Linked DNA regions of Homo sapiens: region 1 is linked to region 2. The links come from fine-mapping of genetic effects on gene expression. A gene starts in region 2. The other region holds a variant in brackets. All regions are shown on one strand. Distances are between the middles of the regions. Region 1 overlaps TXNDC16 (thioredoxin domain containing 16). Region 2 holds the start of TXNDC16 (thioredoxin domain containing 16).

What was found. PIP is the estimated chance that this variant, and not a neighbour inherited with it, causes the effect. A credible set is the group of variants that fine-mapping cannot tell apart.
Region 1: its variant is the best candidate, but not a certain one, in a credible set for the expression of TXNDC16 in whole blood (TOPMed, PIP 0.52).

The regions. Positions count from the first base shown.
Region 1 is chr14:52,433,485-52,446,030 of GRCh38, reverse strand. It overlaps TXNDC16 (thioredoxin domain containing 16), which reads left to right. Exons shown (of 21, transcript NM_020784.3): 19 at 5,307-5,467; 20 at 6,637-6,827. Among named protein-coding and RNA genes, the nearest start is that of TXNDC16, 110 kb to the left of the region's middle. The variant G/A (reference allele first, on the strand shown) is at 5,396.
Region 2 is chr14:52,547,340-52,559,885 of GRCh38, reverse strand. TXNDC16 (thioredoxin domain containing 16) reads left to right here and starts at 7,381. Exons shown (of 21, transcript NM_020784.3): 1 at 7,381-7,570. It overlaps GPR137C (G protein-coupled receptor 137C), which reads right to left and starts at 7,050. Exons shown (of 7, transcript NM_001099652.2): 1 at 6,295-7,050. The coding sequence starts at 6,738. RefSeq lists silencers at 6,581-6,780, 6,791-6,860.

The DNA.
Region 1 (12,546 bases), 110 kb after region 2:
TGACTGGTAGAGTACTCTAGTCTGCCATCTTGCTTCACTCTCCTATTTGTACAGTTTTAGAAAAAAATATTGTCTTATGAAAGGCTTTTTCTTATGTTTTACTTTTACAGTCATGCATCACTTAACGAGGATATCTTCTGAGAAATGCATCGATAGGCAGTTTTATCATACAAACTTTATATAGAGTGTACTTACAGAAATCTAGGTGGTATAGCCTACTACGTACCTACGCTGTAAGGTATAGCATATTGCTCCTAGGCTACAAACCTGTACAGCATGTTACTTTACTAAATACTGTAGGCTCTTGTAACAATGGTAAATATTTGTGAATCTAAACATAGAAAAGGTACAGTAAAAACATGGTATAATCTTATGGGACCACCATCTTACATGTACTCCATTGTTGACTGAAACATCATGCGATGCATGACTGTATAATAGTGGATTCAAGGGCACAACAAATGTAACCTGTGTTACCTGATTTTAGTTGTTTGCTTTCATATTAAACATAGCTAGAATTTATACTTTTCTACATTTCTGAAGTGACTCAAGGAGCATTTTTATTAGCTATAGATGCTAAATGAATATCCTGTTAGGTTTTTTGTCTTGATGATCTAAAGGACATTACATTTTGGGCTCAACTAAGGGACTGCAGTCTTTATTAAGTCTTTTTGTGTCTTGGTTCTGTCCTTTCCTCCTGTTAAAATTATAGGTTATAAATAATCAAATCATTGAATTGATATGTTCATGATGTATGTTTCTAAATTACTTATTAAAGTAACATTTATGTTATTAATGACATGTTATTAAGTAATTCCTTTAGCATATACATAGTGTAGTATTTTTGGAATTACTAGAAGCCTTTGTTTGGCTTTTTCAGGTAATACAGAAAGGATAAAGAAGAAAATTATAATCAACCATAACTTTTCTACCCAAGTTTACGTTAGGAAATACATTTCCCCAAACCTAAATTCTGTATGTATCTGTGTGCCTTTTTATATTAATGTATTTCCATCAAGTACTATAGATACACATTTTAATTTTTAACATCTGCATAATATTGTTTACTAATGTACCAAAATTTATTTAGCCCATTTCCTCTTGATGGTTGTTTAAGCTGTCTTTAGTTTTTGTTTTATTTATAATTCAGGGAACATCCTTTTAGGTAATCTTTGGGTGTATCTATGATTATGGATTTAGGTTAAATTTCTAGAATTTGAATTGGTTGTCCAAAGAGTAGGCCCACTTTTGAGGCTTCTGATAACTTTTGTATTTCCTGACAGAAGATTTGTATCATTTTACTCTTTTTATCTTGGTATATTTAGTGGATAAAAATTGGTCTCTAATTTTTTTAAAGATTATATTCATTAAACCTTAGAAACGTAGGAGAAACTTAGTATCAAAATCTGTTTACAGTAACAACAAATGTAATATGCATTGTGACAGTTTGTTTCCAATGTTTTTATTTGTGGTGTTCAACTTAATACTGAACAGCTATAATAAAGATTAAATAGGCTTTAGAGAGACTTTAGTGCCTTCATCTGGATGAGGAAGGAGAGTTGATGACCAGAGGGTGAAGATTTTTTATTATGGTATGAAGTTTTTATTTTAATGAACCTGATGACAAATTGGGCCAGATAAATAATGCTTAAATCTGAAATACACAATAATTAACTACATAAGCATTGATATATTTAAGACTGTTTCCTGTTAGGAAATAGGGTTTAGTATTTTTCTCAGATAAACTGAGTTCCTTTTTTATGCTTTTATTATTGACAAGTTTAGAACACCAGGACCCACACAGTTATAGTCTGTTATATACTCAGAGAGCCAAAGGTCACCTTCCAAGTACCACATTTGATGACCTCTTAACTGTGTTTCTCCTTAGTGTCTCAGTAGCAGTCAAAACTGTTGTCTATACCATTCCTCCTCAACATTCTCTTTTCTTCCGGCTTTTGTAATTCAGTCCTCTTTTGTCCATCTGACCATCCTCTGTCTCATTTATTCCCTAGAATTACATCTTCAACTCTTTTTTTTTCTTCTTTTGCTATGTCTTTTCTTTGGAAAATTTTATCCATACCCATAACTTCTACCATCACTACCAGCTGATGATTCCTAAATCCGAGTGTTTAATTTTAGAACTCAGTTTCCTTCTAAACTCACAAATCTCTTGGTCTTTCTCTTTTGACTAGACATAGGAAAGAGTAGGGTCCTTCCACTGGTCCTTCTTTTCACAAATTTATATTCTAGTTAGTCATCTTTTGAAAAACAGGCCTAACTGTGTCACCAATCTGATACAGAAATCTTCTCAGTATTCCCAGGAGCTAGAATACTTATGAAGGCATTACTCATCTGGTCTCACAGCCATATTTGCCTCTTGCATGCCTAACTCTGGCATCCTTCATTATCACTATTCCAAAATATTATGTATGCTTTAATAGCTCTCTGCCTATCTTCATGATGTTCCCTATGTCTGAAATCCCTGCTCAAGCACACACCTCAGTCTGTCAAGATCTTATTCTTTATCCAGGGTCCAGCTCAAATATCAATTCCTAAAATCATCCATGAGCTCCCCTACTGTATTAGTCAGGTTTCTCTAGACGGACAGAACTAATAGGATAGATATAATAAAAGGGAGTTTATTAAGTTTTAACTAATAAAAATCACACGGTCCCACAATAGGCCATCTGCAAGCTGAGGAGAAAGGAAAGCCAGTTCGAGTCCCAAAACTGAAGAACTTAAGAGTCTGATGTTCGAGGGCAGGAAGCATCCAGCACAGGAGAAGATGTAGGTTGGGAGACTAGGCCAGTCTAGTCTTTACACTTTTTTCTGTCTGCTTTATGTTTTTTTCTAGTTGTGCTGGCAGCTGATTAGATGGTGCCCACCCAGATTAAGGTGGGTCTGCCTTTTCCAGCCCACCGACTCAAATGTTAATCTTTGACAACACCCTCATAGACACATCCAGGATCAATACTTTACATCCCTCAATCCAATCAAGTTGACACTTAGTATTAACCATCACACCTACCTTGTGTTTTTAGCTTGTTTAATTTCGAACCAATAAGTTTTCTTATTGTCATACATTAAATTTTTTATTTATTATAGCAGTCTGTATACTTACCTGTCTTCTCTTCTAAAGTATGAACTCTTTGAAGGCAAGGAAAGGATCTTATTTCTTTATAGATTCAGCACCCAGCATAACATCTTGAACTTTGTCCTCAATAAATGTTTGAATTGAGCTGTGGTGACTCTGTCTCACCTAATGTTTCTGCTTGTTCAATAAAAGATCTGTCAATATTTAGGAGAGGGATCTAACTCAACTACAAGATTAAAGGATGAAAGCTAACACAAGAAGACAGCATAGGGGAATTTGGAGAAAAAGTGATCTAAGATTTAAGCCATGAAAGAGGAAGGTGTAAGAAGGAGATTTTGAGTGTGAAAGAGAGATAATTAGAAGAAAAATGAGAATGGGCAAATGCAAGCTGCTCTGAGAACTGAAAAGGGAAAGTTATATGCCAGAATTTGGCACTTCAGGATGAACTAGGACTATATTTAGAGGTGGGTGACACCATTAAAAACAAGTTCATCTGAATTTGTAGTGCGATCTAAAGAAAGGGGAAACTGGTGAGCAGAATGCCTGGATTCTACCATCACTCCTTCCCCCTGCTTAGCCGTGGTGACTTAAGCAAGTTAGTCTCTGTGTTGGCTTCCCCATATGTCAGCTGGGGGTTATCTATCTGATACAGGATGATATATCTAGCTCGCAGGTGTATCCAGAGGATGAAATAATGGACGTGGAACTGAAAATGGTAGAAGGTTTTATTATTCTATGTCATTGCTATTTTTAATCCTAAATATATTAGCATTGTTGTTGCACTTTCCAATTCTTGTTACTGACAGCGTAGACAAATTGTCTTCTACAAATACATTTTAAAATGGTTATTCTCTTTTATTTTTTTTCTTTCAATTCCCTCATTTCACAGATTTAAAAACTGGGGTACAGAGTGCTTTGCTCAAAGTTTTATTACTGTGACAATTCCATGAATCCAGAACCTGGGATTCTGACTTGTAATCAAGTGACTGTTTAAGTCTACCCCATTACAGAAAGGTGTGAAAGAGAGAATAGAAAGAGAGAGAGGATAGACAGTCATTACTGCTAATATTAATATAATAGAATTTTAGGCCCTTCCTTGAGTTGGAGGTGAGTGGAGAAAGGAAGTATTTCTAAGATAAAAAGAGTGCAGTGGCCAAGAGAAAGCTTCCTCTTTGTCCTCTGAAGGTTCCATGAAAATAACTGAAAAAAGGCAGATTAATAGGAGAAAGGCATACAAAATTTTATTTTAATGTGCATAGCATGGGCGAATTGCAGGAGAATGATTACCTCCTTATCTTGTTTTTGTTTTTGTTTTTTGGGTTTTTTTTTTTTGAGAGTCTCACTCTGTTGCTCAGGCTGAAGTGCTGTGGAACAATCTCGGCTCACTGCAACCTCCCTCTCCTGGGTTCAAGCGATTGTCTTGCCTCACCCTCCAGAGTAGCTGGGATTACAGGCGGGCACCACCATACCCAGCTAATTTTTGTACTTTTATTAGAGACAGGGTTTTGCCATGTTGGTGAGGCTGGTCTCGAACTCCTGACCTCAGGCGATCTGCCTGCGTCGGCCTCCCAAAGTGCTGGGATTACAGGCGTGAGCCATCACTCCCAGCCTCCTATCTTTTAATTAGTAATAAAAATGATAAAAGGATTAGATTTCTAATTTCATATTAAATTCTTTCAGTTATTTTAAACTCAAAAGAAACAAGATTGGTGTTTGGATTTGTTTTAGCATATTTTTGGTTATTTTAATTATGATTTTAACCATAATATTGGAAAAAGTAAAATTTTATATTTATTAAGTAATGATAGATGTTAAAGAAAATACTTTTTCAGCTTACAGTTTTCTTCAAAATTGTTATGTTAGAGGAAAAAATATAACAATTGTCATGTGTATATTGGTTAGTCTGGTCCAGACTTTAGCATAATAAATTATTAGAAGTGTTACATCTTGTAAAACAGGGGACTCCTTTAAATTAATTTATTCTCAAATTCTGTGTAGTTTTATTTTGAAAATAACTCATTCAGATGAGGTGGGATTGAATAAGACGATTGAGATTCATAGTTATTAATATAGTAAAATCTCTACTTAAGTGAAAATGTGTTTGAATTACATTTTACAAACTAAAATTGACTGAGTGATTTGAATGTCTTCTGTGGTATGCATTATCATCCCCAATGCATTTTTTATTGTTGTTATTCCTTTTCTTTGACAGCCGGAAATCACTGTGGAAAATCTTCCCAGTTATTTCAGACTTCAGAAACCATTATTGATTTTGTTCAGTGATGGCACTGTAAATCCTCA[G/A]TATAAAAAAGCAATATTGACACTGGTAAAGCAGAAATACTTGGATTCATTTACTCCATGCTGGTTAAATCTGTAAGTATGTGTTTATTTTTTAATATGTAAGAGGTAAAGAAAGTAATAATTATTACATTTTCATTAGGAAACGAAACTCTCTAACTCTTTGGAGTTAATTTTATGGAACCAAATATGTCACCATGATATTTTAGTAACAAAACTCCCCCAAACAAGGTCCAAGATGACCTTATTTTAGATTAAATTTTATTCTACAGTAAAATTTTAAAAGAAATAATTGTTCTACTTTTTAAAAGGAATTGATGCCCATTGAGAAAATTTGGCAAATACAGAATAGTAAACATTGTGATTTTTGGACTTTTCCTTCAGTTCCTTTTTCTGTACTTCTATATTTTTAAAGTTCAGACAGATTTCAGTGCATTCATCAGCAATATTTCCTAGTATGTTTTCTAGATGTATGGATTGTGTTACATTTAATGTCTGTGAACAAAATTCACAAATAATATACTGCCCCTTGTTCAGATTCATCAGATGAAAGACATATTTATTCTTTAAAATCATTTGAAAAATAACAGAAATGGGGCAGTGTACATTTTTGCTGTGAAGAGTTTAACAGTGCATTCTACTGCTTGAGGCAACATTTTCCCAGGCAATTATCATTACAGGTATCTAAGAGTAAAATAGTATTTTATAAACTGTAGAATGTGTTACATTAGGAAAACTAAGTATCTTTAACTTAGAGTTTCCTTGTATGAACATAATTATTTCTACTTCTTTAATTTGAAATTAATGCCTTTTCCTGAGAAAAGGCACAATTCTATGGAAAAGAAGTATTTATAAAAATAAGTATCTTGTTATCTTCTAGTTATGTAATCATTTAATTTTTGAGCTGATGTATGATCAGATACTTGGCCAAATGTTGGAAGGAAACTACTGGTTGCGTCAAGCCTAAATTGACAAGCCTTTGGGCTATGCCTGCTTTTCATTAAAATTGTCATTGGCTGCCGCTTTTCTCCCAAGTGAAACAAAGTGCCCCATGTTAAAAAGAAACTTTAAAAGAATCCGGTTACTAATAACATGTCGTAGACTTCTTGGTTTTTAGGACATCTTTTCATAAAGTGAACTTACTGGCATGATACTACTTAAAAGTTTAATGTTCTACGAATTACTATTTTCATTATTTTGTTGTAGAAAGAAATATTAATATGTTCAATTGTTCCCTTTTGCAGAAAGAATACTCCAGTGGGGAGAGGAATCTTGAGGGCATATTTTGATCCTCTGCCTCCCCTTCCTCTTCTTGTTTTGGTGAATCTGCATTCAGGTGGCCAAGTATTTGCATTTCCTTCAGACCAGGCTATAATTGAAGAAAACCTTGTATTGTGGCTGAAGAAATTAGAAGCAGGACTAGAAAATCATATCAGTAAGTTTTCTGTTTTGTTTAATACATGTAGTTCTGCATTTTGTTCCATAAATGTTAAACTCTAAATATAGCTAAAGAATGGTAGGATGAGTTATTAAAATGCTGGTAGCATCATCCATGTGGACAGTCTCTGACTGGGAGGCCAAAGGTGCAAGGCTTCAGTCAGTGATCGGCTCCCCTGTGAAGGCCTGTTTCTTGAATTTTAATTCATTGAGTCCATGTTACTTGTATAGATCACCAGTGTATTCAAACATATGATTTTGGTAATTTATGCCATTAAAAAAGTTGTTACAGTGGGAGCTTTGGCCTACCAAAGCATAAGTATTTCATCTATTTTTATAAAATTTAAAATTGTAGATTTCAGAAGATATTTCTTGTGCAGCTTTTTCCATGTGCATGCCAGCTTGTTTTCTTTTTATAACTGTAAGCAAATATGTGGTTTTATAGAAAATGAGGATATTTTACAAATAGTGCATTATTGTTATATAAAATTCTGGTTCTAAGTACAGGCATACCTCAGAGATATTGAGGGTTCAGTATGAGACCACCACAATAAAGCAAATATTGAAATAAAGCAAATCATACAAATTTTTTGGTTTCTAAGTATATATAAAAGTTATGTTTACACTATACTGAAGTCTATTAAATGTGTAATAGCATTATGTCTAAAAAATGTTTTTACCGTAGTTTTAAAATATTGCTAAAAAATGCCAACAATTATCTGAGCTTTCAAGGAATTGTAACCTTTTGGCTGATGAAGGAGGGTCTTGTCTCTGTGCTGATGGCTGCTAACTGACAGGTGGTAGTTGCTGAAGTGCTGAAGTTTGGGCTGTGGCAATTTCTTACAATAAGACAACAATGAAGTTTGCAGCATTGATTGACCTTTCTTTTCACAAAAGATTTCTCTGTAGTATATGATGCTGTTTGATAGCATTTTATTCACAGTAGAACTTCTTTCAAAATTGGAATCAATCCTTTGAATCGCTGCTGCTGCTTTATCAACTAAGTTTATGGAATATTCTAAATCCATTGCTGTCATTTCAACGATGTTCATAGCATTTTCACCAGTAGTTTCCAACTCAAGAAACCGCTTTCCTTGCTTATTCATGAGAAGCATCCGTTCAAGATTCATCATAAGATTGCAGCAATTTAGTTTCACCTTCAGGCACCACTTCTAATTCTAGTTCTCTTGTTATTTATACCCCATCTGCAGCTACTTTCTCCACTGAAGTCTTGAGCCCCACAAAGTGTACAAGGCTTCCTTTTCCTCTGCATCCTTGTCAGCATTTGTTATTGCCTTTGTTTGAGATAAAAGCCATTTTAACTGGGGTGAGGTGATATCTCATTGTAGGTTTGATTTGCTTTTCTCTGATGATCAGAGAAATATCTGTTTTCATAGACCTATTTTCCGTTTGAATGTCTTCTTTTCAGAAGTGTCTATTCAGATCTTTTGCCAATTTTTAAATCAGATTATTAGTTGTTTTTTTCCCCATAGTAGTTTGAGCTCCTTATATTCTCTGGCTATTAATCCCTTGTCAGACAGGTAGTTTGCTAATATTTTATTCCATTCTGTGGGTTATCTTTTTACATTGTTGATTGTTTATTGTTTCCTTTGCTGTGAAGAAGCTTTTTTTTAACTTGATGTGATCCCATTTGTCCATTTTTGCTTTGGTTGCTTGTGCTTATGGGGTATTTAGAAATCTTTGCCCAGTCCAATATCCTGGAGAGTTTCTATAATGTTTTTGTCTAATAATTTCTTTTAGTAATTTAAGTTCTTACATTTAAGTCTTTAATATCTTTTGAGTTAAGAGTGAGATAAGGTCCAGTTTGTTTATTTTGTATCCTGCAACTTTACTAAATTTGTTGATTAGTTCTAACAGGTGTTTTTGTGGAGTCTTTAGGCGTTTTCTGTATATAAGATCATGCTACCTGCAAACAGGAACAATTTAACTTCCTTTCTGATTTGGACAGAGCCAGAATTTTGAACCACAAGAAAATAGATCTTGGCCCAGAATCTATTATCCTGGCTTATAACATGCCATAATATCCACTTTTCTGAAAACATAGAAAAATTTATATTTGTAGTATGGATATATATATTAATTTATATTTGAGTCTTAACCATTTATACATAGTTGTGGCAACAATAGGCCTGTAGCTATAGTTTAAATAAGTAAACATGTAGCAACCTAGATTATTATAGTATATTGAACAAATAGTGTGAAATGTAACAAAAAGTCTCCTAGGTACTATATAAGGATTTTATTAGATACTAGATGGTCTATCCTAAAATAATATTTTGATACTGTTCCATGACAGAGTCCTGAAATAAGGTTTGTATGTGTGTGTATATATGTAAATATGTATGTATGTGTGTACGTATGTATATACACATACACTCTGGTATACAAATTCTCATTCAATATTATGTCAACTATCAGGTATAGTATGAATCTACCATTATGTATATTTGTATGTATTTCATCAGCTACTTTAATTTATTTTAGGGTCAATCATTACACCAAACCCATCCTTCCTAAGTGGTCTGCTTCATTTCTGTCAAGTTAAGCAGTTTTAACAAACATATTATGCTTAAATAAAATATGGATGGTATTTTTATTGAAATATAATATACCATAAAATTCACCCTTTTAGAGTGTACAATTCAGTACTTTTTCAGGCATTCTCAAGATCATGCAACTACTACCATTGTTGAATTCCAGAACATTTTCATCACCCCAAAAAGAAACCCCATACCCATTAGCGGTCACTCTCAATTTTCTCCTCTATCCACCCTTTGGCACCCACTCATCTATTTTATGGTTCTATGGATTTGCCTAATCTAGACATTTCATATAAATGGTATCATATAATATGTGGCTTCTTATGTCTGACTTCTTTCACTTATCATAAGGTTTTCAAGGATCAACCACGTTATAGCATGAACCAGTAGTTCATTCCTTTTTATGGATGAATAATATTCCACTGCAAGGATATGTCACATTTTGTTTATTCCTTAGTTGATGGACAGTTGGGTTGCCTTTACTTATGGCGATTATGAATAATGCTGCTATGAGCATACATGTATATGGTTTGGTGCCTGTCTTTATGCTAGTACTGCACTGTCTTGATTATTGTAGCTTTGTAGTAGATTTTAAAATTGGGAAATTTGATTACTCCTACTTTGTTTTTCATTTTCTTTTATTTCATTTTGTTATTTTTTTTGAGACAGGGTCTCACTCTGTCACCAAGGCTGGAGTGCAGGGGTGCGATCATCACACACTACAGCCCCGAACTCCTGGGCTCAAGGGATTCTCCTACCTCAGCCTTCCAAGTAGCTAGGACTACATGCATGCACCACCAAGCCTGGCTTCATTTTTTTGTTTTTGTCTTTGTTTTTGTTTTTGTAGAGACAGGGTCTCACTGTGTTGTCCAGGCTGGTCTTGAACTGTTGGCCTCAAGCAACCCTCCCTCCTCAGCCCCCCAAAGTGTTGGGATTACAGGCATGAGCCACTGCACCTGGCCCTATTCTTTGTTTTCAAGACAATTTTGGCTATTCTGGGTTCCTTTAGATGATATTTTTGTCTTAATTTTCTGAGGCAATTTATTGGTTTTAATATTTTCCTAGGAAACGGGACAGAATTAATTAATTAAATTCAATATTTTGTTTAAGTGGATCTGGAAGGAGACCTTTCTGTAGTTATCAGTCATCTTTGACTACTTCATTCTCACCACATGGTATAGGGATCTTTTCAGCTGTAGCTCTTAAACTCCTCAGAAAGTCTATGTTCACTTAACTGTCTGCATTGCTATTTTATAGAAGCAAATGAGTATTGTCATGTTGTAGCTGCAGTGACACAGAGTTCCCATGGACTGTAACTCAAGATTATGTGTAGCTAGGGCTAGAATGTTTCTCAAACAGAATTACTTAAAAAAAAAAAAAAAAAAAAGCAGACATGTTCAAAACATAGAAACCTGAGCTCCTGCCCTAGCTTCCTAGATTACTATGTGGCTCTAGGCAAGTCATTCTTGGTTTCCTCCTCTACAACTATAAAATGAGTTTAATAGTTTCCACTCTGAATACATCACATAGTTATTAAAAAATGAATGCAGAGGCACTTTGTAAAGTATAAACTCTAATGTATTATCATCACCTATGTAAAGATCCTTTCCTGCAAGGAACATCCCTGAGGGCTTTGATTCCTCAGCTCAAACCATTACCCAGAGGAAAGAATCAACGTTATACTTCTGAGTTTTCTGAGAGACTGGCGTGTCTTCTATTGCAATTTTGTTAACATCTTTGCCAGCTCATTCTTTACGGGTTTCCATCATTTCTATGCATCACTGCTCCTATTCTTAAATTAATCCTGTAGCCTCTGCAGCAGGAAAAAGAAAACTGAACAGTCTCTGTGTATTGGATTCTGCCTTCTGTGCTAGCAGGGCCTGCTCTCAGCATCTCTGTTAGATAGATCTTTGCCAACAGTGGTGTTCTGAGATGGGGTTGGGGTCGGATGAGTTGTAGGAACATTCTGGAAATAGCCTAACTCAGTAACATGGTGCCACTGGTGTCTGCCTCACCTTACTTATTGCATATCTTAATTTCTGTGAAACTGTGGCCACTGGCAATTCTTACTTGAGATTTACACTTAACTTTGGCCCAGTTCCCTGATATTTGTATGCTTTAGTGTTCTCGTCTATAAAATTGTAAAGATAAAATGAATAGTGCATGTGTATAGTAAAGGCTCAATAAATGTTAATTAGTATTATTTATTATCATTACTGATTTGATGAATAATGTATTTATTACCCATACATTATTACAGTTTTATTTGCAGTTGAAAACATTAAGATCTTTGTAGAGTTCCCTCAGCAAGTAATTAGCAGAATTGGGATGTTTCAGGCATTTTGTCATAGTCTCAGACCGCTAGGCCGCAGTGTTGACCTTAAAAAATAACTATTGTTAAATATAATATTTGCTACATGCTACACTTTAAACTGGACTCTTTGTTGTTGTTGAGACAGTGTCACACTCTCTCATCCAGGTTTGAGTGCAGTGGTGTAATCACGGCTCATTGCAGCCTCAACCATCTGGGCTCAAGTGTACCTTCCGCCTCAACCTCCCGAGTAGCTGGAACTACAGGCACGTGCCACCATGCCCAGCTAATTTATTTTTATTTTTTGATTTTTTGTAGAGAAGGGCTACCACTATGTTGCCCAGGCTGGTTTTGAACTCCTGGGGCCAAGCTGTCCTCCCATCTTGGCTTCCCAAAGTGGTGGGATTGTACATGTGAGCCACCATGCCCAGCCTAAACTGGACTCTTACAGATACTTTAATATACATTTATCTGCATATTGCAAACTACAGTTATTCTTCTTACCTGTTCATTATGTTCAAGAAAATATGTCATCCATTTGTCACTTTTGAACCTGCTAACCTGGCAACACCAATTTGAAACATCAGTTTCATGAGTAGCCTAAATTTATTGCCCTGCTGATGTACCAATTACCAGGATTTCATATAGTTGAGTATGAGTGAAGAAATTATATATCAATAAGCAAAGTACAGCTGTACTGCATGTGTACATATACAGATTTTTGTTTGAGCTTTACTCTAGGAAATTGCAATATATATGTTTTTTCTAAGCTCTTAAAGATACTCAATTTATGAGAGATGCTCAAGTTTGTATCTTATGAGCATTTATTATTATTTTTTAGCATG
Region 2 (12,546 bases):
CCCTGCCAAGTGGAATTTTTATATTTCATTTTTCTAATTGTTTTCTGCTAGTATATAAAAAGTTATATCCTATAAGCTTAAATATTACTTCCTGTAGCTATCTGTAGATTAGGATTTTTGACCTAAGAAATTGTGTCACCTACAAATAGAGACAATTTTACTTCTGTTTTTCTAATTTTCGAACCTTTTTCTTTCCCTTGCCTATTGCAATGGCTAAGACTTCCAGCACAATGTTGTGAAGTACTTTGTTCTTCTCCTAGGTAATATGCTGCCAATATTTAAGTATAATATCAGCTATAGGCTTTTTGAAGATGCTTTTTATTAGACTGAAAAAATTCCCCCTTTTCCCTCATTTACTAAAAGTTAATTTTAAAAAATCATCTATGGTTGAATTTTGTCAAATTCTTCTTTCTGCATCTATTGAGATGATCATATGATTTTCTGCTTTACACTACACATATGGCTTTTATCACATTGATTTTGAAGGTTTTTTGTTTTTGTTTTTGAGATGGAGTCTTGCTCTGTCGCCAGGCTAGAGTGCAGTGGTGTGATCTCGGTTCACTGCAACTTCCACCTCCCAGGTTCAAATGATTCTCCTGCCTTCTCTCTCTCTTCCCGGGTAGCTGGAACTACAGGCGCGTGCCACCATGCTGGGCTAATTTTTTATATTTTTAGTAGAGACGGGGTTTCACCATGTTAGCCAGGAGGGTCTCGATCTCCTGACCTTGTATCTGCCTGCCTTGGCCTCCCAAAGTGCTGGGATTAGAGGCGTGAGCCACTGCACCAGGTCAGTGTTTTCAAGTGTACTTTAAATATGTTTTCACAAAGCCCACCTTGGATTTGTTGGGCTTTCTGGATCTGAAACTTGGATGTCTTTAATAAATTTGCGTAAACTCTTATTTTCCCTTTGAATAATTTCTCTATAATTCCAATTACACATATGTTGGACCTGCTCATTATATCCTCATTCTCTCTTCACCCATTGGTTGTATCTTCCATCTTTTATTTCTCTGGGCTATATCCCGAGTGATTTTTTTTCCTAAGATCTTCTAGTTCACTTATTTCTTTTTAACTGTGTTTAATCTGTTTAACCATCCATTTCAGTTTTTAATTTTTTCATTAAAAAATGATTTCCAAATGTGCCAATTTTTTGTATTTCAACAGTGTTTAATTCATAAATGATTAATTATTGTGTACTATGTATTTAATAATTCTGACATCTGCAATTCCCCAGTGTGATTTTTTATTCTGAACCCATGTTTTTTGGAATTTTATCTGTCAGAAGTCTGGGTTTAAAGTACATTCTTCCACAGATGCTTTGCATCTGCTTCTTACAGCTCCTTGAGGTTAGTATCAAGCAAGGATAACTTTATGTTTTCAAGTTAGATCTCCTGAAACCCCCCAGTCTGCTCCTCTCAATCACAGAACTGATGTGAATTTAGGCTTCAAACTTGTGCAAGAATGAGCTTATTTTGCATTCCCAGGGAAGACTTATTTACCAATTTGTACCCCCTATCTAGCTCTGAGGACCTGCTTATTTTCCTAGCTGATCCACTGAAGGTGTACACTTAAAGGATTCTGGCATTATGCTGGAGGGGATGAAGTCTTTTATAAGACCTCACTGCAAGGCACAGCCTGCAACGACACCTCCCTACACCTTCAACACACAAAATTAAAATCTGGGCAGTAGGCTAACAGGAGGCAGCTGAAAACCACTCCTGCCCTACCCCCAAGACACACATTTGTGTGATATTTTATCATTCTGCATTTTTTTTTTTTTTTGGTAGTTTCTGGCCTTTTCTTGCCAGCCCAATTATGCACTGAAAAAGACTGACTACTCTCTGCAGCATTTCTCTGAATCTCTGGTAGGCCAGATGACCTGGCTTCTACTTCTTTAAACCAAGAGTCATATGCAGTGGATGAAAGGTGAAGAAAGAGTTTGCTAGACAGTGGAAAAGGTTTGAAACCATGTGAAAAACGGGAAAGCAAGTTAGAAAAGCACTATTAAAGAAGTGATGTATCCAGGAAAGTTCATGGTATAGAAACAAATTACTTGATAAGACTTCATAGCACCTGAGCTATACAATAGTATCACAACTGATACATATTAGCCATTTAATTTTGGACAAATCACATCTCTTTCTATTTCATGGGGGTTGTGAAGACAAATGTTACAAAGTGCTTTGAAAATACCAATTTCATAAAATATAAGGCATTATAATCATGTCTTTTGTTACAGGTATGTATCTGAAACTTCGGCTTCACAGATGATTTCAGGAGAAATAAGATCAAGATAGTGAAAAAATTTAGTAGATTCAGACAAAAACAGTTTATAGTCAGTTATGGATAAAAGTCAAACATTGAACTAAACCAGTATTTCTGGTAAACAGTAACTGACTCAGGATATGAGACTCATCTTACAGACTTTTCTATTTTGTAGAATTTGTTGAAACTAAATTAGCAAAGCCTTAATTAGTATGGGCCATTTGCCATGATATAAAAAGTTTCATTAAACAAAACTCTATATTGTATGAAATCTTTTAGGCAGAAAATAGATTCCAGACAATACATAATTTACCTCAAATGTTCATCAAAATAAAGTTAACCCCCATATTTTAGATAACTATTTTCTAAATTTTGACCTTTTTATAAAGTGTCATTCAATAATATAATCATCATTGTTCTAGTTGCTGGAGATAAAAATATGTAAAATATTCCTTCTTATCCTCAAGGAATTTCTATTTTAGGTGGTAGAAATGTGATTTCAACTTTTGTGGGAAATCAAAGAACAGAACAAAATCAAATGAACCTGTAAGTTGACTTGCATGTTATTTGAAGTATTACCAATATAAGAATATATCTACTGGTAGGGACAATAATAGCATCCATAAATGTAAGAGTTAAGATTTTGAATTTAATTTTCCTATCTGTTTTGGCATTGTAATTAAGTCACTGTACTTTATCCTGATTAAGCAACTGGCACTCCTAAGACCAAACTGAAAGTAAGAACTTCAATATGTTGAAGATGAACTCATTGATTTTGGCATGCATCACAACACTCCAAGATGGTATACCATCAACTCTCATTAAAAAAAAAAATTTAGATTCAGGAGGTTCATGTGCAGGTTTCTTACATGGATATATTGTGTGATGCTGTCAATTCTCCTTTTAAGTCCTTCAATATGTTCTAATGGTAGATAGAATCAGTTTTATCAGATAGTCTGTTTCAAATATTGAAGTCTTCTCCGGTAAAACTCCAGGAGTGTGAACCCTTCTCTGGAAAAGCTCTTGTCCTACTGATCCTGCCAGAAGTTCAAAATGTGTTTTTAGATTAGTGTACAAGGTGGCTTTTCTTTTTTTTTTCCCCCTCTCTCTCAACTATAGGCTTCCAGGAGGTTAAGTATGAGACACTGAGAAGCTTAACTGTTTAAGAAAGGGCTACTTTCCCTCATCTCAATTCCATTCAAGTGTAGACACCAAGAAAAAAAAAAAAAGAAAAAAGGGGTTGAGGCATTTCTTAACTTTTCAAAAACATGAGTTTTAGAATATCCACCAAAATGTATTCAAAGTAGTAGAGTTTGTTTTACTTTTTATACTGATCCACGATTCTTTATAACTAAGTCCTTAAAGCTACTCTTAGTGAGAATCAGAAAAAAACAAATGCTTTAAACAAGTGAAAAGTAATATGGAATTGGTATTTAATACGGCATACAGCAAAGACAGAGTGAGTTGGTAATCAAGACACACGACTATTCAAAAAAGTTATAGGGGCTTTTGGTTAAAAAAATTAAACATCAGTTAAGTCTTATATTTATCACCACATAGGCTTTCCCTACCACTTTGCTATAATATGAAGAACTCACTAGGAAAAACTTCATTAATTCAGAATGATCAATGGGAAGTATACTTGCAGTTATCTGGAACTGACATAAAAATTTGAACTAAAATACTCTCTTAAATACAGGTTCCTGGAGATTTTCTCTAATGAAAAGAGAAATGATTTCTGGTTAAGATATCTCCTTTCAAACAGGCTTTCAAAAAATTGACAATTTGTTCTCTTAAGTACAACTGTGTCCTAAAATTGTTAATTTCATTATAAAAAGAAAGGATAGACAAACAACTCACACTCTTTTTAGCAGGCATTACAAAGGAAAAAAGCTTTATCCCAGCTTCTTTCCAAATTGTATTTTTCAGGTTAATAGAGTTTTATCGTTTTTAAAAAAGCATATTACACAAACATTTAACAGGAAGACTTTCAGATTTTAAATTCTTCCTCACTAGCTTGGAATATTAGCTCAAAGTCTGAAGACCCAATCTAGATACTCCGTGTATTCTATGCTATATAAGCATACCTTCAGAATTTTGAGCTTAAATATATCTCCTTTTTTGGATAGTGTTTACCCACTTTGTGCTTACCTGGGGGAGCTACTGACTGGGAGAGGGTAAAAAGGGAAACTTCTGGGACACGGAAAATGCTTTATATCTTAATCTGGGTGGTGGTAACATGGGTGTATACAGATATAAAATTTCATCTAGGTGTGCATTTAAGATTGTGGACTTTATTGTATATGTTATACCTCAAGAAGTAAAAAGAGTGTTTACCCACTTTATGAAATGCCTACCAACTATTTTACAGTGAATCATTCATATTATTTTGTAAATCAAAATATATAGGGAAAAAACAAGTCATCTGATGCCCCTGGCATAAAAATCGCTAGTCACTTTCAGGTAAACATCTGAACCTGGAGTAAAAGCTTCAGCGTTGAGAAGTCACTAACGCACTATCTGAAATGGTGGCAGGAAGATTACAATGTATCAGTTTAAGTATAAAGGGTAGAAGTGTTATAACAGCTTAAACGACAACTAGATTAGAACACCCTCAAATAAGTGACACGACTATGGCATCATTTGATTTGTGATAACCTATGCTTCTTATTTCCGCTTACTGGTTTGCGTTTTTGTCATTGTATTGTTTGGACTTTCAAAGGATGGAGAAGGAAAATAATAAAAGTTAAATTAGTTTTGTTGTTTTCAACTATTGTTTTTAGTGTGCTAAATAGCTGACATTATGACTGATTATAAAATTATGCATTCTACTTCCTATTAAAGGAGAAAAGAGTTGGTTTATGCAGGAAATATAAACACTTAATATACGTCATTTTTTTTTTTTTTACTTTTGCTTGGAACTACATTAATTCCATCACCTCCAAAAAAGCCTTTGAGAGGATTAGCTGCATAGGCCAATATTATTCTATATTAGTCTGTATTAAGCATATGATGTCACCTTGCTTCCTCCCCTCCTCAAGCTTTTCTTTTGGTGGGAAGGAGGACTTTTTTGGGGGAAAGTCTTAAAATATTATGGCTTAAATACCACAAGCTGACACACATGATTGACAACCTTACACTCCCAAACCTGTTTGAAATGGGTCAAATACCTAAGCGCTGCAGAACAATGCAATCCAACCAGCAATTCCCCATAAAAGAGAAAGGGGGTGTGATTAGGTTCCAGATATTAAGCAAGTTATTGCAAAAACAGTTTGGTGGTTTTGTTTCTGCAATAGGCACAGGTTAAGCTAGTATTTTTTTCTCTTAATTAGCTCCAAAAAAGACTATGCTAATAGGAGGTAGGATAAACCGCTAAAGCACGAAGCAACTGGGGCAAACATTAAGGGCTTTATGGAGGTCCTTATCCTGATCCTCAGCATTGGTTATTGATCATCAACCCTGCTGGGGAACTATCGAACGAAATTTATGTGAGGCTTATCGAGCCACAGGAAAGGAGATGCAGGAGGGAATATAAGCTTCTAATAAAAGAAACGCAGCAACAATAGCAGAGGAACAGCTCTGCCTGGTGACGTAATGGCTGGCAGCAGTCCAGCTTCAGCAGAGCTGCTGCTACCTCAGCATCCAACCTCCCTCAACACAGTCCGGCTTCGGCAGAGCCACCGGGGCTGCTACTTCTTGCGATGCCACTTTGTTGGTGCCACCAACGCCTTACCTCGGAGGGCCAGAACACCGAACAAAGGGTTCGTTCCGTTGCTGTTTTAAGTTGTCAGACACACACACTCACTCACTCACCCCCTAGCCCGAACCCCTCAGTAATCAAGCCAATCAGCCACTTAAGTTTAAGGCGAAAACACTGGCTCACACTCCAGGTGTGCCTCAGTTTCCCCAGGCTGGTTTCCAGTCCGCCTCTCGCTGCCCACCCCCCGCCCCCGCTGGTCCTCAGCGGGAGTTGATCCCGGCGGCCCCGCGCACCCGCCCGGGCCCCGCATGCCGGCCCTCCCGCCTTACCTCCGCCAGGTAGAGGTTGAGGAGACAGAGCGTGGAGAACTGGAGACAGGAGGGGAAGCAGTAGAGCAGCCAGTGGGGGAAGAAGTGCAGGTGAGCGGGCGGCCGGAGCAAGGGCAGGGAGCCGCTGAGCGAGAAGGCGGCGGAGAAGAGGGTGGTCCTGAGCGCTGCCCACAGGAGACAGAGGAAGAGGCAGAGGCTCTGGTAACTCAGCCGCCGCTCGCGGTACAGGAGCAGCCGCCACAGCTGCAGGTAGGCAAAGGCGAACAGCGCGGCGTAGAGCAGGGCGTGCAGGACGCTCAGCGCCAACTGCACGGAGCCCGGCACCGCGGCGCCTGAGGCTGCAGCGACGGCGCCTCCGCCTCCGCTGCCCCCGCCGGGCGTGGAGGGCTCGCGGCCGGCTGCGGGGGCGGCAGCGGCCGCCGGACCCGGCACGGACACCCTCATGAGGGGGCTGGGGGCCGGGCGAGCGAGCGCGGGAAGGAAGGGGCTGGACTCGGAGCCGCCGTCGAAGGGGAGAAGGACTGCCCCCTTACCCCCCACCCACCCCAGCCTCTAACCCCAGGAAGCGCCGTGACGGGACCCGGAGTCCAGCGCAAAGCAGCCGCGGCTCCCCCGGACCCCGCCTCCTCTTTCCCCCCACCCCCCGGGGGTCTCGGCTCCTCCTGCTGCGGCTCGGCTCCGTAGCTGCAAAAAACAACTCTCGGCTGGAGACAATCAGCTGAGAAACCCGAGCATTTGAGGCGCTCGCTCCGCACTGTGGGCTCGCGCCGATTGGCCCAGGCAGGCACGCCCCCTGAGCGCCGCGCTCGGAAGGCCACGGGCCGCAGGACCCGTCGCTCGAGGGCCCCGAGATCTGATTGGGCGCGTAATTTCCCTACTTTCTCCCGCCCCTGTACTTCCCACCCACGCTGCTGATTGGCCCTGCTACTGCACCGCCCGTTCGCGCCGGCGGGAGGACTCTGTAATCGTCTGTCACTCTCGCTCCGCCCACCACGTTTCCCATTGGTTAGAGAGTGCCTCGCGTAGGGAGCACGAGGAGAAGGAGGAGCTTCGCAGGTTGTTTTTTCCCAGGAGGCCGACTCCGCCGAGTCGGTGGCGGCTGCAGGCTGGGAGGGAGAAGTGCTACGCCTTTGCAGGTTGGCGAAGTGGTTCCAGGCTACCCGGCTAGTCTGGCACGGCCCCGTCTTCTGCCTCCTCCTCCGTCGCGTGGCGGCGGGAACTGTTGGCCGCGCGGCCTCGGGAACGGCCCAGGTCCCCGCCCGCAGGTCCCGGGCAGGTAGGTGACAGCGCTGGCCCTTCAGGCTGTGGGCTCTGCCTGCAGACCCGGGGATTCAGACGAAGCAGCTTTCTGTAGCCAGGGCTGCACTGCACAGCTCCGGAGTCTGACTTAAGACACCCGTCTCTGGGGCACCGAAGGGCCTCACCTGGAGCCTCCTGAGGGCATTTTGCTTTCTCTTTTCGCTGCATGAACGGCGGGAAACACCGGAGCCCTTTGTGGGTCGAGGGGATGGAAAGGGGCGACGGGGAGAATCGGAGCTCTTAAGTGAAAGACCCTTTCCTCCCAAGGCCAAGGGAAATGTCTCTTAAGGAAGAGTAGTAGTAGTATCAGATGGATGTTGAAGCGATCTGTGAGCAGGGGGAAGCTGGTTCTTTCAAACGTAGAATTTGGGAAGATGCTCTGGGCTTAAGTTTTGGGAAAAAGGCAGAAACAGACTTGTAAGTATGATGATTGCCTGGAGAGGAAGTAGAATATTCTGTACTGTTTAAATTCCACATGTATCGAAGCCTTGGACCTGTGTATGGTAGATGGTGGCGCTATTCCTGGGCCTGAGAGAGAAAATACATGCTGTGTTACTGCTGTGAAGAACCGAGGAATAATCAGATCGACTAACGTATATTGGGCCGGCACATAGTTGTTGACTTTTTTTTTTCCTATTTGGAAATAAGATTAGCAAGTAGTGCAAAATTAAAAGGAAATAATTTGTTTTCTTTAGAATACACAGCACATTACGAATTCAGTATCCTTGTGAAAGACATTGCTACGTTTATTGGAGCAACAAAGACCCAGCTTTTCTTACCTCACCATCCTTTGTCCTATGCTTTTTTTTTTTTTTTTCCTTTTTTTCATGCAGGGTCTCGCTCTGTCGCCCAGGCTGTAGTGACAGTTCACTACAAACCTCCACCTCCTGGGCACAAGCAGTCCTCCCACCTCAGCCTCCCAAGTAGCTGGGACTACAGGCACTGGAGCCACCATGCCCGGCTGATTTTTTTTTTTTTTTTGGTAGAGACGAGGTTTCACTATATTGTCCAGGCTGGCCTTTGTCATATGCTTTGCCCAAGAAGAGTGTTGCTGTCTTTTTTCCTAGCTAAGTATTCCACAGGGAACTTTAAAGTCTATTTTGTAGATTCTGGGACAGTCGTTTGTCCAGGTACCAGATGCTAGTGTGGTTTGAGTTCTTTATAGGTATGCTGACAAACTGTGGTAGATGTACAGGCCTAGCACTGTTACCTAGACATCCCTCAGATGAAACGTTCAGCTGAGCAGGTAGAGAGTGCAGTGTATGAGAGGGTACGGCTTGCTCTAAGAAGTTAACAGGCCTAATCCAACATCTATGCTTTGGAGAAGGATTTTATGTTTATTGGAACCTAAGAAGTTCATCTCATGTATTTTTAGAGAATGTGGTCAGGGCGGTACACAATTCTCTTCAAATAGGAGACAGGATGCTCATGACAGCAGTGATGTAATTGATTGCAGTAATGTGCTTAAGTATTTAAATTGAGCATAAAATCAGAGTTGTGTGATTTTAGGCACTTGTCAAAATCAAGGGCGCCACATATTCTCTGCCATGGCCTATTTGCATCTTCCATAATCATTGAGGTGCACATTTCAAGTCATCAATAGACTTTAAAAGGTTTTTCTTTTTCTCCTCTATTCTCTGCTCAAAGTGATAGTAAACATCTGGATAGTACCCATACTAATTTTAGGTCTTGGCCTGTGAGGCTTACCTGCCACCTGCCATGTGTCAGTAAGAGCAAGTCTGGATAGCTGCCTCCTTTCTCTTTTTTGGGGGATGGGAGTGTGTGTTTAGAGGTGGGCGGTGAGGGTGCAGGTAGAGGATTTTCCTCCCAACTGCTTTGAAAAGGCTCTAAAGGGGAGAGATGTTGACTCCTTTTATTGCCTCCTTGGGTCTGAAATGATAAACTGTGTTGAGATCTGATCAACATTTTATTTGAGGCTGGTTCAGTGAGCAGGTTCTGTTCTCCAGTAGCAGCATTAAACTGTAAGTAAGCTGACTTCAGACAGAATGTTCTTATGGGAACTTTGTAAGCGTTATATACTCCATTTGTTGCAAAATATGAAGTGTGTCTTTTTCCTGAGTATGATGGCCACAGATGTTGCTACAATTTATTTAATAGTTACAGTTGTTAATTTCCTTCTTTTCTGAGAGGAAAAGCCATTAATTTTATGGTTAATCATAAGGGAATATTAGGCCTATAAAGGGGGAACTAACCAAGGGTTTCCTAGAAAAGCTTGGTGTCAGCTATTCTAAAATTTAAATGTGTCCAAATGCATAAAGATTTAATATTGTTGTTCTGAGAGGACAGATGACCCTAGCACAGTAGTCTTTCAAACATTTAAAAGCAGAACTGTTTGGGTCGGGCATGGTGGCTCACGCCTGTAATCCCAGCACTTTGGGAAGCCAAGGTGGGCAGATCACGAGGTCAGGAGATCAAGACCATCTTGGCTAACACAGTGAAACCCCGTCTCTACTAAAAATACAAAACATTAGCCAGGTGTGGTGGCGGGCGCCTGTAGTCCTAGCTACTTGGGAGGCTGAGACAGGAGAATGGCATGAACCGGGGAGGCAGAACTTGCAGTCAGTGGAGATTGCACCACTGCATTCCAGCCTGGGTGACAGAGACTCTGTTCAGACTCTGTCTCAAAAAAAAAAAAAAAAAAATCAGAACTGTTTGTCAATTACTATTGCATACAGTACCCTATACCAAAATGGGATTAGTGGAGCTAACGAGGGCTACCAGCTGTTCTACCTGCCTAAGGAACACAAAGGCAAATCCTCATACTGTCTCCTTACAAGAAGACTAGCGTTTTCTCTTGAAGTACTTCCTCCTTGATGTCTTTTGGAGCTTAATATTCAGTTGCTGAACAAAACACACTTTTGTCGCCTTTAACATTTTATGTGCACGCTTTAGCCCTTTTTCTACTATTGTCTCACGGAGCCATTCTTACAGTGCTGTTACCCTCTTGTATTAGTCTTTAGTTACATGTCACTCATTCTTTCTATTATTTAAATGAGCTGTGCAAACACACTTCTTCAGAGTTTAGGGATGAGACAAAAGTTACATCTTATATGTCAACTCTGATCCATGCCAGCAGGACCATTATACTGAAGAATTGAGGGCCTCTCGCAGCCCAAAGGATCAAAGTCTACATGTAGTTGGGAGGTGTATCTGTAGTATTGGCAAACATGCTATGGAAAACATTTACCTATTACTTTTCCCGTCTTTTAGTATTGGCATCTTTTGTGGTAATAGTCAATTGCATTTTAAAGAGTCATCTTATGTTCAAGTCATAATCCCTTTACCCGTTACTAAGACCAGGTGTACTAATAGTGCTAGACTGGGTTATACTGTGGAAACAACCCGGAAACATTAGAAGTTTAAAATAATGGTTTATTTTATTTTTTTCTGAGACGGAGTTTTGCTCTTGTTGCCCAGGCTGGAGTGCAATGGTGTGATCTCGGCTCACTGCAACCTCTGCCTCTTGGGTTAAAGTGATTCTCCTGCCTCAGCCTCCTGAGTAGCTGGGATTACAGGTACCTGCCACTATGCCCAGCTAATTTTTTGTATTTTTGGTAGAGACAGGTTTCATCATGTTGGCCAGGCTGGTCTCGAACTCCTGACCTCAGGTGATCCACCCGTCTCGGCCTCCCAAAGTGCTGGGATTACAGGTGTGAGCCACCGTGCCTGGCCTAATAGTGTTGGAGGCAGAAAGAATGAGGGTTGTGACCAACTCGGTATACCACTGGAGGCTATATGAGCAAACAGCAAACTGTTCTCATGAAGGCAGGTTGTTGGCGAATTGACAAACTGCGTCTGCCTCCCAGAAGGAATGCTAAGGCCAGTCACACCCCAGGCGCAGTGTTTCTTGTGATTATCTACAGGAACATCTGAAGCCTGTTAGCAATCATGTGAACCTGTGATAAATCAAGCAGCTGACCAACCATTACCTGCTCCTCCCTGCTCTTGCTACCCAATAAATATGAAGGGTTGTGGAAGCTCAAGGCCCTTGCTCACTAGAAGCAAGGAGCCCCCGACCCCTTCTTTAAAACAGATTATTTTGTCTTTGTTTTCATTTCTACATTCGTTCTGCCTTCGTTCAGTCCCATAGTAACCGTCACATAATAGTTTAGTTTACACTGGATCAGTTGGGAGCTTTCCCCTATGGTGTTCTCTTTCTGGGACTTGGGCTGACAGACAAGGCCTAATTTTGAGTGTAATCAGTCATCATGGCAGAGGGAAAGTGTGTTGTGGTTCATTGCACATGTATACTGACTCTTAAAAGCTTCCAGAAGTACATGTCACCTTGCACATTTCATTGGCCAAGTCATGGCCATACCTAACTCAAGGAAGTGAGATGTATAATTTTAACGTGCAGAGAACTAGAAACATTTGAACAGTCTCTCGTCAACAAATGCTTTCCTTTGTATATGTAGTTCTTCCTTGGCTTTTCCTGGTGGAGGTAATTCAAAATTACCATCTTCACTATGTGAAGCCTAAAGTTGAGGATCTCTGAGTAATGCCCAGCAGTGGTCATCTCTTTACTGGTCTAGATAGAAGTTATCTGTCTGCCACCCCCTGTTGAACACATAAGGCAGTGCTGGGAGAGATAACTGTAAGTATTCCTGTTTGGAGAGAGGAAGAATGGAAAACACACACCAGACTCTAGATTGTAGCAATCTACGGTTGAAATCTCTCTAGGCAGTTGTTGCTAGGGCTCTAGTTCTGTTCCCTGAGTTCTCTAGGCCAGTTGAAACAACAACAACACTCCTAACACAATAGAAATGAATTACAGGAAAAGTGAAATAAAGAACATCAATTTACAAGCCCAATTTTAAAATTATTATTAGATTCAACAAATATAAAATTACTGTGTGAAATTGCTATAAAATGTTCTAAACATTTACATTCCATTTCTGTATTTATGTCATTATTTTAGACAAGTAACAAATA